Linked DNA regions of Homo sapiens. The protein of the gene in region 3 purifies or fractionates together with the protein of the main gene of each other region. This does not show direct contact. Each region holds a gene or a part of one and is shown on either strand. Other genes may lie near its edges.

Region 1 (3,500 bases), on a different chromosome or scaffold from region 3:
GGGGGAAGTCACTTATAATGTTACTCCTGATAGCTGTTAATATTGGGATATTTCTATTTATTTTTTTCTAAGCATCCTTTTTTTCTTTGAGATCTTATTATATATTTTCTCTTTTGTTTAAATATAACAAAGATTTTCCAATGCTGATATAAATGTTTTGTAAATAATTAGGATGGATCCATAATATTTCATCACTTGATTACCATAAATAACAATTCTTATTTCCCATTAATGGTAACTATTTAATGGTTAGAGCTTCATATACAGTTTAGGATGTTTGTAAAGCAGTTTACTATTTTTGTTCTTCTGAAGAGCCCAAGAGTGTTTTCCGTACTGGGTGGATTAGTACTAGTTCTATCTGGAAAAAGCCCGGGTTGGAAGAAGCTGTGGAGAGTGCGTGTGCAATGCGAGACTCATTTCTTGGAAGCATCCCTGGCAAAAATGCAGCTGAGTACAAGGTTATCACTGTGATAGAACCTGGACTGCTTTTTGAGATAATAGAGGTATGCAGCAATATGTACCTTTTGAAATGGTGTTAGTATCATAGAGCTTTGCCTGAAATTTGCTTTTAAAATGTGTCTAAATTAATCAAATAACATTGGGTTATGTGTAACTTTACTATGCAATTATTCTATTATGTTCCTTTTCACATACTTTTTCACTTTTAAATATCTTTTAATAAATTAAGCAAAGTCATGCACATTTAAAAAAAAGTGTCTAAATTAAAAAAAAATTAATTTAGAAATTAGGGTTTCCGTCTTCTAATCCTGATATCATCACTGATTCTTTTGTTTCCTATTTCACCATATTCTTTTCCATGTCTTGTAAAACGTGTTCTGTGCATGTAACACATACATATTACTGTGTAGGGATAGGGAAGGAATAGATAAAGTTCTGTTTCAAACAAAAGGCCTCAGGACTATTTAGAAGACAGGGGACATATAAATTGATCGCGATCGTCTTTGAATGTATAAAAAATGGGAGTTTTGTATTAAGGGTCAGGTTTCCTGAGAATTTCATCCATCTGGACCAGATTCAAAACAAACCCAAAAAGAGTTTCCATTTTTATTTTGTGAAATCTGGAGAAAATTCATTTTCTCCAGCAAGTTACCACATATATTTCAAAGCATTTATCCTATTTTTATTTCTAGAAGGGCCATCAGAATTTTATTCTTGGGATTTTTAGGGGTTGATTGGCCAGATTGGCTTATAGCTTAACATAATGATGTGATTTTTCTCCAGTCTAAATGCTTAAGAAGAGAATTGGCAATGAATATAATTTTTTTTCCACGGGGCATTTTATTTGTAAATATATGTATTACATCCCTAGAAAAAGAATCCCAGGATTTTCCCTCCTGTGTGTTTTCATCTTGCTTCTTCATGGTCCATGATGCCAGCTGAGGTTGTCAGTACAATGAAACCAAACTGGCGGGATGGAAGCAGATTATTTTGCCATTTTTCTAGATCTTTGCTTTGCACATCAAATCTGGGGCTGATGTCTCCACACTTGTTTAGCCTGCCTGTGAGGTTCACAACAATTTTCCCAGCTCTGTGACCATCAGTGATTTCAAATTTGCCAATGTAACCATGCTTCATCATCACGGTGAGAAACAGGATGATGACTTTGGAGCACGGCCTAATAAGCACCTGGCTTTTGCCTCTCTTTTTGGCATTGTTGATGCTCTTGAGAGCATCAGCCAGGACATTCATGCGCACCATTGTGGTGGTGCAGAAAGACGGTGGAAGAGCTATTTTTTAAAAGTTTTATTAGTGTCAGTTTTCTAAAAAACATCCATCTTATTTTGTATGGTAAGCTCAATTTAAATTTTTAATGATGTAATTAGCAAGATTAAGATTTGAGCTTGAAATAGCTAGTAGGTATAATAGATGAGATTTTCCCATTTTAAAATTTAAAACTTGGGAAGCTGTTCATTTTACAAGTGAGGAAGTGAGGACTGCTGAAGCTGTGACCTAGACAGGGTAACACAGCCTAGTCCTGGCCTTTTTTCCTACATACTGTGTTTCCTTTGTCTTCAGTCTTTCTAAGTAATGAACTGAAAAGAAGAACAGCTTGTTTGGATCAATTTTATTGGAAAAAATACTTTGGGATTTTCAAAAACATGAATGTATTTTCCTTAGGAATCATACCAAGTAGCTGTAAGATGGAGTCCTGGTTCTATCCATTACTAATTGCATAAACTTGTTAAAACCAAATTAATCTCTTTGAGTCTCTTATTTCTCATGGGCTTTAATTTTTAAAGGAATGTCTATGTTGGTTAGCTTACAAACTCACTTTGAAGATCAAAATTACAGAGAAAAATGTGTTCATCAGACAAATTCAGTCTACTTCATAAGTGTTCTGCGTATTGTTCAGATTGCCACTATCAGTATACATTACTAAAAGCTGGTACCTGTTGAGATAGTATTTTAGCCCCTCACCCAATGATACATGAAAAAAAAAAAAAAAGGCTTTGAGGCTGACAGACCTGGGCTTGACCTGCAGTTCCACCACGTATGGGTTGAGAATCTTGGGCAAGTTAACCTCTCTTTGCTTGTTTCTTCATTTGTAAAGTGAGGATAATAAACACCATATAGGTTTTTTTTGTGTGTATGTATGTGACAATTAGAAGTAAGAGACATCTTAGGATCTAGCAAAGTGAAGTGCCTGGCATTCTCAATAAATACTGTTGATGGAAATATTTAGTTAAAACCTTTTATGCTAATTAGGATTGATACATTTAGTGATGTTTGCTCAGGATGCAATGGTATACCAGAAGGTTCCTCTCTAAACGTGAGATTTTATAGTGTTTCTTTTTATAACCTCAGTTTATGGTACAAATTTAACATAAACTGTAACTTTCACATGCTTCCTTCCAGATGCTGCAGTCTGAAGAGACTTCCAGCACCTCTCAGTTGAATGAATTAATGATGGCTTCTGAGTCAACTTTACTGGCTCAGGAACCACGAGAGATGACTGCAGATGTAATCGAGCTTAAAGGGAAATTCCTCATCAACTTAGAAGGTAAGAAGGAGATGAAAGTAACAAGTAACATCTGGAGAATTGAATAATTATAGGTCATCTCCAACTTTCCAGTGGACTGGGTTTATTCTAAAGGTAGATATATACTTGGAATACATCTTTCTATGGAAATAATAAAAACAATTGCCAAGTTTCTAAGCCCGCTCTTAAAACTATCTTACCTGATGATCTTGGGAACTGAGGGCTAGGGACAGAAGAGGGAGAGAGATTTTCTTTCTGTCCTTTGAATAAATAATGGTCACTGTATATGAAGTTTATGTTAGGCTGACTTGCTCCCATTCCTCTTTTGTGTCCCCCTGCTTTGATACTTAGTACCCCAGTACTGGCCCAGTCCTGCCCACTGTTCCCCAGTATTGATTCTAAAATTTCCTATTATGTATACCCCGGATTAAAATATTTAGCCATTCTTGTGAGGGGTTAAGGAGGAAGTTTTATTGAGCTCATTCTAACAATGGTATCT
Region 2 (3,500 bases), on a different chromosome or scaffold from region 3:
CATGTTGAGGCTGGTCTTGAACTCCTGACCTCAGGTGATCCACCCACCTCAGCCTCCCAAAGTGCTGGGATTACAGGCGTGAGCCACTGCGCCCCGCTAGGAGCCAACATTTTAAAATAGGGAGATTTAATATAAAAATCCCTATTTTAGCTGGGCACAGTAGCTCACACCTGGAATCCTAGCGCTTTGGGAGGCCAAAGCAGGAAGATTGCTTAAGACTAGGAGTTTGAGACCAGCTTGGGCACCAAGACCCCATCTCTACAAAAAAAAAATTTGTTTAAATTAGCTGGGTATGGTAGCACGCACCTGTAGTCCCCAGGAGGGTACTCAGGAGGCTGAGGCAGGAGGGTCACTTGGAGATCACTTGAGCCGGGAGGTCAAGGCTGTTGTAAGCTAAGATCACATCAATGCACTCCAGCCTGGGCAACAGTGAGACCCTGTCTCAAAAAAAAAAAAAAAATATTCCCAAGTTCTTGCTTCTTTTGAACAACTGGCGTGTCAAGCAACTCCAGGCCCCCTTTACCCCAGGGCCACACTGGCTGGAGCCAACCAGCAGCTGGCCTGTTGAGAGGGGTAATCTCTGGTCCACCAGAGGCCCACTAGGCCCATAACACATTCTCTCCACAGTAGCCTGGCAGCTACCTGTCTTTAAAGCCAAGTGCCATCCTCTCTTCCCTTCTCCACAGATGAGGAGTCTGTGGTCAGAGGGAGATGTATTTTTCACAGATCACGCAACACACAGGAAGACACAGCGAGGGTTTTTAGATTCCGAGACCAGGGTGAAAAATCTGCTCTGATCCAACAAAGCACCCCCACTGTGCTTGGCAGCCGATCAGCCACTGTGGGACGATGACCCAAGAGTCCCGGACCTCACCCTGATGCCCCCATCTGGAGACTCTCGGGACACAGCAGGTGTGGCGTCTGGGATGTACTTTATTGGACAAGTGGTGGCCCAAGTCTTGGTCTGGAAGCACTGGGGCCCTGGACCCAGGCACTGAGTTTGAGGAGGCCCAGAGTTCAGGGCTGTTTGGAGCGAGGCCACAAGCGGCTGGTGAGGGAGCCAAGGAAGAGGTTCTGCTTGTTGGACTTGGAGAGCTCGGCCAGGCGCTGCTGCTCCTCCTGGGGTAGGGGGACAGTTGGAGGAGAGGGTCAGCGCAAGGTGGACAGAGCCTCCTCCCAGATGCCCAGGTCCCCAGGCCTCAGCCCAGGGACCACCTTTCCTTCTGACTTCTGCCAAGTCCAGACCCCTTTCCCCAAACCCTGGGGCCCCCAGCCCAGACACAAGGGACCCTAGACCCCAGTCCCCCCACCCCAGACACTAGGAAGAGCCAGCTCTGAGCCGCAGGAGCCTAGGCTTCAATGTTTGGGGGACGACAGACTCCAATACTAGGCACTCGAGGTATTCAGGCCTGAACTGCAGTAGGTTCTCAGGCCCCAGACTGTCATAATCTCCTTCCCCAGATCCCAGGGACCCCTCCCCTGAGCCTGAGATCCTATCGCAGACCCTGTTACCCCAAGGTGAATGCTGGTGAGATCCCAGGTCCAAACCCCATGGCCCTCCTCACCAGACTGCATCATCCTGCCCCTGGGCCCTCTGAGCCCCATGACCCCTCTCTGGATGCAGGGGTGGGGGGTTCCCTGGGGGGTCCCCAGGCCCAAATCTCTAGGGACTTCTCTGGGCACTCAGGGGCTCCCAACTCTAGGAACCTAACCTAGAATCTGGTGAACCTCAGCCTAGACCCCTGGGAATCTTACCCAGACGCAATCCATACTCTCAGTCCCACTTCCAAATTACCAGGGTCCCACCAAGACTATCACATCTCTCCCCACAGCCTTGGGCCACGTGCCCAGGGAGCCTCTTTCCAGGCCTGATCTAAAACCCACAATCCACCTCCACAAGGTGCCCCCAGACCTACTCAAGACCATCAAGGGCAACCCCTCTCCCAGCCTAATCTCAAATCCTCTCCTGTTTCCTGTTCTCAGAGCAGGCTGCAGAATCAATGCATCCCCTCATTCTGGCAGCCCTACAGGACAGGCTGTGTTATATCCCCCTGGTTACAGAGACTGAGGCAGAGAGGAGGTATCTGCTCAGGGTCACACAGCCAAACCAAGAGTGTGGAGATGGACTGCCCCAGGCTCCTCCTTCAGGAGCCTCAGAGCCGATCCTCCACTCTGGGCATCTGAGCACCAACCTGCTCTAGCCGGCTTTGCCGCTGTTTGAAAGCCGCCAGCGGGTCATCCTCCAGGGCATAGTGCTCCAGCACGGTTCGCACGTCCTCCACACCATTCAGTGCAATGGCTGTGGGCACAACAGGGGGTGGTCAGCCAGGCTTCTAAAGGCCAGAGGGAGGCAGGGCCCATGAGGGGAACGTCCCGCACTGGGGCACGGGGGCAGTCAGTGCTACCTGGAATGCTTCTGAACGCTCTGAAAGGGCTCCCCTGAACATCCCCAAGTATCCCCCAAACATTCCATGAACATCCTAAGAAGCTCCTAAAGACTCCAAGGTGCTCAGGCACCTCTTGCACCTCAGTCGCCCAGCCATGAATCATGCATTTATCCTTCCTCTTCAGAGTCAGGGGCTCTGGGGTCAGAGGCCAAGGGATCAGGGGTCAGCCTTACTCTTGAGGAAGGCAGACAGATCCAACAAGACCCGGTCATCAGAGTTGCCGTCCCAGGGCCGCAGGGCAACGCCGTTATAGGGCTGCAGGCGGAAGGCTTCCTTCTTGCAGTCCACAACTACTACTCGAGCTGGGTCCCGATTCAGACATGAAATATCCTGGAAGTGAGTGACAGATCAGGTCAACATCTGTGCCCAACTCTCCCCCCATCAAGAAGACCCAAAACACACAAAACATACATACATACACAGCATCACACATACTGGGATCACAATGGCAGGGCCTCTCAAAGACCGGCTTTGGATGATGGCATCGACCCCCACAGAGGGCCAGGCATGGTGGCTCACGCCTGTAATCCCAGCACTTTGGGAGGCCGAGGCGGGCGGATCACCTGAGGTCAGGAGTTCAAGACCAGCCTGGCTAAAATGGTGAAACCCCGTATCTACTAAATACAAAAAATGGCCGGGTGCGGTGGCTCACGACCGTACTCCCAGAATTTTGGGAGGCCAAGGTGGGCAGATTGCCTGAGCTCAGGAGTTCAAAACCAGCCTGGGCAACATGGCGAAACTCTGTCTCTACTAAAAATACAAAAAATTAGCTGGGTGTGGTGGTGTGTGCTTGTAGTCCCAGCTACTCGGGAGGCTGAGGAAAGAGAATCGCTTGAACCTGGGAGGGGGAGGTTGCAGTGAACCAAGATCGCGCCACTGCACTCCAGCCTAGGCAACAGAGCGAGACTCCGTCTCACAAAAAAAATAAATAAATAAAAATAAAAATAAAAATTAGCCAGGCATGGTGGTGTGTGCCTATAGGCCCAGCTACTCAGGAGGCTGAGGTGGGAAGATCGCTTGAGCCCAGAAGGTTGAGACTGCAGTGAGCCATGT
Region 3 (3,500 bases):
TTTAATTACAGAAAAGGCAACAATTTCTAAATTGGTGGTATACATTTCTTTACAATTTTTTAATGTAAGGCCATTTATTAAAATAGACAAACTAGAAGATGAAAACGAAGGCAACAGAAAAATTCAACTTTTCACAACCAAAAGAATTAGCACAACCTTAGAAATAATTTAGAAAAAAGTGTTGTTAAAAGATATGTTGCAGATCTCCGTTCCATTACCCAAGATTATGTCAATTCACGATTCTAAATAAATCTTTTTAAAGTAAGAGATTAAAAACTCATCTTCAGTGTATATGTAAATTCTGTGTTTTATCACACAGGTATGTTTATTCAACACTGTCTTTTGAAAATGGACCATTTAAAAAGACATAGCAATTTCCATTCTGTTAAGTTTCATTCAACTTTACTTAGGGTTGAATACACATGAAATGTGCTTTTAATGCATAAAAATCACAGTGGATAGCAGCAAAGGACTGGGCGGGGGGGGCATTGAGGAGAATTTGATAATTCACATTGTGATTATTCTGCACATTGATGAAACATAATTCACACCTCTAAAACCTCAAGACTTCCCTTTTTTAAAGAACCAAAATAAACCCAAGACACCTTGCTGACACTTCCCCACCCCTAAACAAACTGATGACTCTTTTACACATAAAACTGAAATAGTTATGGCAGCAAAAGATTTTGATGGCAATGAAAGTTTGTAAACTGTATTTCAATCTCTTGTTCTTATTCCCAAAGTGCAAGATGCAGGGTTCTCAATCTTTCAGTAGTGCTTCTCCTGTAAATAATCCTTCATTTTGTTTGGCAAAGGCAGTTTCTGAATTAAGTCTATTCTGGTATACTGACGTATAACAAAACGACACAGGTACTGCAACGAGCGCACCTGCATGAACCGGGACACTGGGTTGGTCAGTCTGACGGGGTAAGTTGCAGATCCAGGCAGCCGAGACCTTGAATAACAAAAAGCTCCATTTTCAGAGTCCCTGATTGAATGCTCAATTAGATCAACTATGGACGTATGTCCTTCCACATCTGGCTGTTCATAAAAGCTAAACCTACCATTTGAGTGCTCAATTCTAGTGTGAAGTGTTTTACCATGGGAGCGAAAGCTCAAGCTTAAAAGGTAACGGTCGTCAGAACTGTCCCGAACAAGAAAAGAACCATCTGGCACGTTTGCTAGCTTCCCTTCTGCCTCCCAACGTGTGATTGGTCCCCAGTACCATCCTTGCTTTGCAAGTTTTTTCAGCTCCTCTGTAAGGCTTGTCACAACCATGGGACCACTACTTTGCACTGAGTCATAAACTCTTGCAACCCCAGGAGCAGAGTTCGGATCAAAATTCAAATGACAGCGCATACTTTCAGCCACGTGGGCTTCTGTGCCAGTGAGTCCACTGAAGTTCCTTTGGATTTGATTATTCTGCATTGGAGGTAGCAATGGTGAGAGTGGAGGGACATCATCGTGACCCGCTCTCGGGCTCTGCAACATGACTCCCGTGGTGCCAATCAACAAGCCATTCACGGACTGATCCACGAAGATCTCTGGGGCGACAACTAGGTCCTGGTCTACCTGACTCTCATCCTCGGGGAAAGCGCGCCCTCCCACTTGAGGAGGAACCGCAGAGACTTCCATGGGAGAAGAGCTGTCCAGACAATAGCTCCGTGATCCTTCCAAAGGATACATCCCCTCATCTAAAGGCACAGTATACTGAATGTAGTCCTGAGGCATAAGTCCAATAACGACAGGCACATGTTCATCCAGGTGAAGATGCAGGTCTCCATTATGAGAAGCCGAGCTCTTCAGTGAATTGGCTTGCTCCTGGCACGTGGTCTCAGACTGGAGGTCGTGGAAATCCTTCCGGACGCCATTCAGGGCTGGACTCGGGCTGGAAGAGTGAACCAAGGCCTTGACTCTCACCTCCATCTTGATGCAGGTCTCCTCGGAGTTTGTGGGCCGCAGAGGCCACGGCGCGGGACTGTAGTGATGGCTGCGGAGCGACGTGGACCTTATCGGCCTCTGAGCTCTCACGTCTTTAAAGACTATGGGTGCTGAGGAGGAGGAGAAGGTGTCCTCGTCGGCAGAGCTCCCAGAGGGTGTGCCCGCCTTGCCTTTTGACTTCTGTTTTGCAGAAAGCCGCCTTTTTAGCGTACCCATCAGGCTCTCGCTTTTTGATCTGTTTTTTCCGCCTTTTTCATCTTCACCGTTGATATCGCAGCTGGCCATATCTTTACCATAGCAGCTACCAAATAAGGAATCATCTTTTCCAAAGTCACTGGCTAGCGATGGTTGTTGTACTACCATGAAATCAGTTTCTTCTTTACTTTTATTCAAGTTAAAAGATTTCCGTAAGGTTTTAAGACTAATTTTCTTCATTATGACTAGTTACCTAATCCAAGGGATCAATATTTCTATCTGGAATATTATCCCCAAACATCTGGAGAGGCTGCAAGGCTGCATCTATGTATTTTTCCTGCTTCATTTAACCTTTGGAGCCATTTTCTAAAAAATAAAAATATAAAAAGAGTCATATTAAAAAATATTTCCACAAAAGTTTTGTTTTAGTCAGTTTTAATCCTTTAACTTCTGAACGAGAACACCCCAGTCTTTTCTTAATGTCAGCTCTGTTAGGACCGGGCTTTCTTTCTATTGCACCCAGCAGAGCAGATCACTGCCTACTACACAATGAGCATTTGGCAAGTATTTGATGATGTTTACTTTATTATTATTATTATTATTATTTTGAGATGAGTCTCACTCTTTCGCCCAGGCTGGAGTGCAGTGGCGTGATCTCGGCTCACTGCAAGCTCTGCCTCCTGGGTTCACGCCATTCTCCTGCCTCAGCCTCCCAAGTAGCTGGGACTACAGACGCCCACCACCACACTCAGCTAAGTTTTTTGTATTTTAATAGAGACGGGGTTTCATCGTGTTAGCCAGGATGGTCTCGATCTCTTGACCTTATGATCCGCCCGCCTCGGCCTCCCAAAGTGCTGGGATTACAGGCTGAGCTACCATGCCCCGCCCGATGATGTTTATAAAGAACAAGCCTGCATCTACCTTTTGTTCTTTTGGCACCTTGCTTTTTGGTATAAACTCTAACGTGTGGGCCAGTGTCCACATCCTTCCCAGCTGGACTCTAGCTAGACCTGTGCACTCCTTCAGCACTGACTCCGACTGCTCCTCCGCTGCCTGCCATGTCCCAGCCTGTGTCCTGGCACGACAGTAAAGGCGTTCCATAGAACTGCAATAACAAGCCTAGTCAACTCAACAACTGATGCATATTTTAAATACTTAAGCTTGTGTCAAAATAAACAAAAAGAATTTCATTATCTGTAATAAACTATCTAGAGATGTTCCTCTATACTCGAGAATTCCTTGAGAACAAGAATCATTTACCTTCAAGTTCCCAATGCACAGAGGAGGAAGAAGCTCAATGCGCGCAGGTTGAAAAGCTTCATCTCTGAAGTACACCCATAAAAACCCATGTGTCTAGTTTTGAT
Region 4 (3,500 bases), on a different chromosome or scaffold from region 3:
AAAAGAGAGAGCAATACACCAGCTCCCTCTACTCAAGGACTACCAGATTCGTGGGGCATAATTGCTGAACCCAGACAGTCAGCCTTTTCTAATTATGTGAATGTTGAGTTTGGAGTGCCATTTCCAAATCCAGCAAACGACCTCTCAGATCTTTTAAGAGCTATACCACGTGCCAACCCCTTATCTCTGGACAGTGCTAGGTGGCCACTTCCTCCCCTTCCCCTCAGTGCTACAGGTAGCAATGCTATTGAGGAAGAGGGTGACTACATTGAAGTAATTTTCAACTCAGCAATGACACCAGCCATGGCTCTTGCTGACAGTGCCATTCGCTATGATGCTGAAACAGGTCGAATCTATGTGGTCGACCCATTTTCTGAGTGCTGTATGGATATTTCTCTCTCCCCCAGCCGATGTTCTGAACCACCACCTGTAGCTAGGCTGCTGCAGGAAGAAGAGCAGGAGAGAAGACGCCCACAAAGCCGTTCTCAAAGTTTCTTTGCAGCAGCCAGAGCCGCTGTCTCTGCTTTTCCAACAGACAGCCTCGAGAGAGACCTTTCCCCATCCTCAGCCCCGGCTGTCGCTTCGGCTGCAGAGCCGACTTTAGCCCTCAGCCAAGTTGTAGCTGCGGCCTCCGCGCTCGCCGCAGCCCCGGGCATCGGCGCAGCAGCCGCAGCTGCTGGATTTGACTCCGCCTCTGCCCGCTGGTTTCAACCTGTTGCTAATGCTGCTGATGCCGAAGCAGTAAGGGGAGCCCAAGACGTTGCCGGTGGCTCGAACCCTGGAGCCCACAACCCATCTGCAAACCTTGCCAGAGGTGATAACCAGGCTGGCGGGGCTGCCGCTGCAGCTGCCGCTCCGGAACCACCACCTCGCAGTCGCCGGGTGCCAAGACCCCCGGAGAGAGAAGATTCTGACAACGACGACGACACTCACGTGAGAATGGATTTTGCCAGACGTGATAATCAGTTCGACTCTCCCAAAAGAGGTCGGTAATTTTAGAATTAATTTCCCTAAAGTGAATGGTCATTGTCTAATGATTCGATGCGCTACAGTCTACAGTGTTAGGGATACTATTTCATTAACTGGTGCTATTCGACATGGAGTATAGAATTCAGTTTTAATTATTCACAAATGCCTTTTTGATCTTTGCAAAAATTTGTTTTTATCTAATCAATTTCTTTATCTGGACAGAACTGATTATCATTTAAACACTGGTTCTACTTTTTTAGGAGTAGTTAAAACGCAGACATAAAAAGCATAAGGATACTTTTAAACATCCTTCCCCATCATTTAATGATAATGTAAAGCAGGATATCGTAAATTGGGTTCCACCAACTAATTTTCAAATCAACAATTAAAAGCTGCTTTTCTGCAAATGCCCATATTTAAGTGTAGGAATTTAATAAGAGCACAGACTATTAAGCAGTAATAATCAACTATTTATGTTTAGGGAGGATAATTTTCTCCTCTGAAAGTTACTTTTTAAAGAGCAGTCGTTGTTGTGCTAGTTTGCTGTGATTTACCAAGAAAGTTAAATCTCAATTGTTAACGTGAATGTCTGGGGGGAACAAAACATAAATAATCCAAAACAGGAGGTGATTAAAAGAAGACAGTATTTGGCTCTGGAATGTGTTTGTGTGTTGATTTTCTTTTTGTTTTTACACAGGATAAATTCCAGAAACCTTGAGTGTTCCTTTTCTCTGTCACTAGTAATGACAGGCAAGTCACATTTGCTGTGCCTCATTTTCTTCTTTTAACCCCCCACCCTTCTAAAAGAGGGTGTGGTGACAACTTGAGAATGGATATGAATATTATTTCAAAGGTTTAAAAAGCAGTTAAAACATTTAATTCATATATCTTATGGGAAATCAAGGAAAGCAAGATAAGGCTGGAGGAAGACCTGACTCCAGGGGCAGCTTACCCTGGAATGGTGGAAGTTTTTAAAGGGCTACTTTTCCAAAGGAAGAAGTAAGGAAGAGTAGGAGCTGTCAGACTTGGAAACAAGACTTAGAGTAATTCTACTGTGTACAACATTGTGGAATGTTGTCATCAGTGTGTCTTGAAACATTTTCAAGAGATGATTGCAGAGGATGATGTCTCCATAGTCTCAACTACCTTGCCTCTTAAGTAGAATATGCTTCTTTCCCAGTGAAGGGAAGGGATGGACCCCAGCAGTTTTCATTCCAGTAGTCAGTTTAGTGAAGATTTTTGCTTTGCTTGCTTTGTGGAATGCTTTTGTGATTGGATCTCTGCCCACTGTGCTTGATCAGGCAGAACAAGTCGGGCACTGATCACAACAGTCACCTAACAAGCTCCCTATTTAATGCAGGTGTAGCCCCCCCACATCCCCTTTTTCTCCCTGCTATAGAAAACTTGCCATACACAAACTCACATTTGCAGCGTGGACACATTAAAGAGTGATCATTAAAACAACAAAAGGATGCTTTGGCTTGCCAAAGGATTCAATTCAGACCTCTTTTAAACTGTGAGTTCCCTCCCCAACACACACACATACACACACACACAAACACACATGATCACCACTGCTACCATAATCATACGTTTAAAATATATAATTTCATTTCCAAGTCTTTAATCCATAATAAGATTTTCAAGAGTAGATCTACTTTATTCTGTAGAATATACCTGAAAATTGATCTCAATCTATTGTTTGAGTCTAACTATTGAAGACACCATTTATAATTTTGATGTAGATGATACACAGTTGCCTGTGTCCCTGTAGTACTTTCAAAAGGACCAGTTTTCATAGAGGTTTATTTTAAGAAGTTTAAGATTTAAATAGTGAAATCTTACTGTTCCTTGAATAAATTCTGACTTCCCAAGGAATACCTAGACACAATGATCATTATTTTAGCATAAATTCCTGATTTATGACTTTGTAGCTATTTTGGAGATTTAACATTCTGTAAATGCATTGTTTATTGAGGAAATTCCTAGCTTTATTGAGTGACTTTAGCAAGGAAGCTCTATCTCACAGGGAGGCAGGCGCTTAGGTTGAAATAAGAGAATCAACGTGGAAGCACTTTGGAATGTTAAAGCACTTTACAAATGTAAGATATTTTTAGTGTCATTGGATTAATACTGAAGTGAAATTTCGGCAGTTTAAACTGATTCAGTTTCTTGCAAAATAATTGATCTTGAGGGTGATTCCTGCACATAATTTGCTGAAATACATGAAAGGAATGGTGGGGATTGCCGGCGGGGGGGTGCGGGGGTGGGGGTGGTGGTGGTGGTGGTGGTGGTGTTGATGGTGGTGAAACAACCCATTGTAGGAAATGACTTTGGTTAGCATTTTAATGTAAATTGTATGGTAGAATGTTGTCTGTGAAGTGTTAAGAACAAGCTGAATGATTCTGATCCTTTTTTATTGTAAAGCTGTAGAATAATTTTCACTCATTTCTGATCTCTATTTTCCTATCTAACATTAAAACAAAAACAATCACGTTAGGAAACAAAAACATAATGCTTTGACAGAGGAA

What was found.
Region 1: the proteins of SOCS6 (region 3) and IARS2 purify together in Homo sapiens (affinity purification with mass spectrometry, with the first as the bait; one large-scale study listed by BioGRID). This does not show direct contact.
Region 2: the proteins of SOCS6 (region 3) and TIMM50 purify together in Homo sapiens (affinity purification with mass spectrometry, with the first as the bait; one large-scale study listed by BioGRID). This does not show direct contact.
Region 4: the proteins of SOCS6 (region 3) and IRS4 purify together in Homo sapiens (affinity purification with mass spectrometry, with the first as the bait; 2 studies listed by BioGRID). This does not show direct contact.

The regions. Positions count from the first base shown.
Region 1 is NC_000001.11:220,142,632-220,146,131, forward strand, and holds part of IARS2 (isoleucine--tRNA ligase, mitochondrial precursor), read left to right. Parts: intron 1-312; coding exon 313-503; intron 504-1,286; exon of another isoform or gene 1,287-1,745; intron 1,746-2,877; coding exon 2,878-3,022; intron 3,023-3,500.
Region 2 is NC_000019.10:39,487,338-39,490,837, reverse strand, and holds part of TIMM50 (mitochondrial import inner membrane translocase subunit TIM50), read right to left. Parts: intron 2,778-3,500; coding exon 2,621-2,777; intron 2,300-2,620; coding exon 2,193-2,299; intron 1,120-2,192; coding exon 1,018-1,119; 3' UTR 1-1,017. UniProt on the Homo sapiens protein: Essential component of the TIM23 complex, a complex that mediates the translocation of transit peptide-containing proteins across the mitochondrial inner membrane. Has some phosphatase activity in vitro; however such activity may not be relevant in vivo.
Region 3 is NC_000018.10:70,323,545-70,327,044, reverse strand, and holds part of SOCS6 (suppressor of cytokine signaling 6), read right to left. Parts: exon of another isoform or gene 3,397-3,500; intron 2,503-3,396; 5' UTR 2,377-2,502; coding exon 769-2,376; 3' UTR 1-768. UniProt on the Homo sapiens protein: SOCS family proteins form part of a classical negative feedback system that regulates cytokine signal transduction.
Region 4 is NC_000023.11:108,730,064-108,733,563, reverse strand, and holds part of IRS4 (insulin receptor substrate 4), read left to right. Parts: coding exon 1-985; coding exon of another isoform or gene 986-993; exon of another isoform or gene 994-1,067; intron 1,068-1,666; coding exon of another isoform or gene 1,667-1,671; exon of another isoform or gene 1,672-3,500. UniProt on the Homo sapiens protein: Acts as an interface between multiple growth factor receptors possessing tyrosine kinase activity, such as insulin receptor, IGF1R and FGFR1, and a complex network of intracellular signaling molecules containing SH2 domains.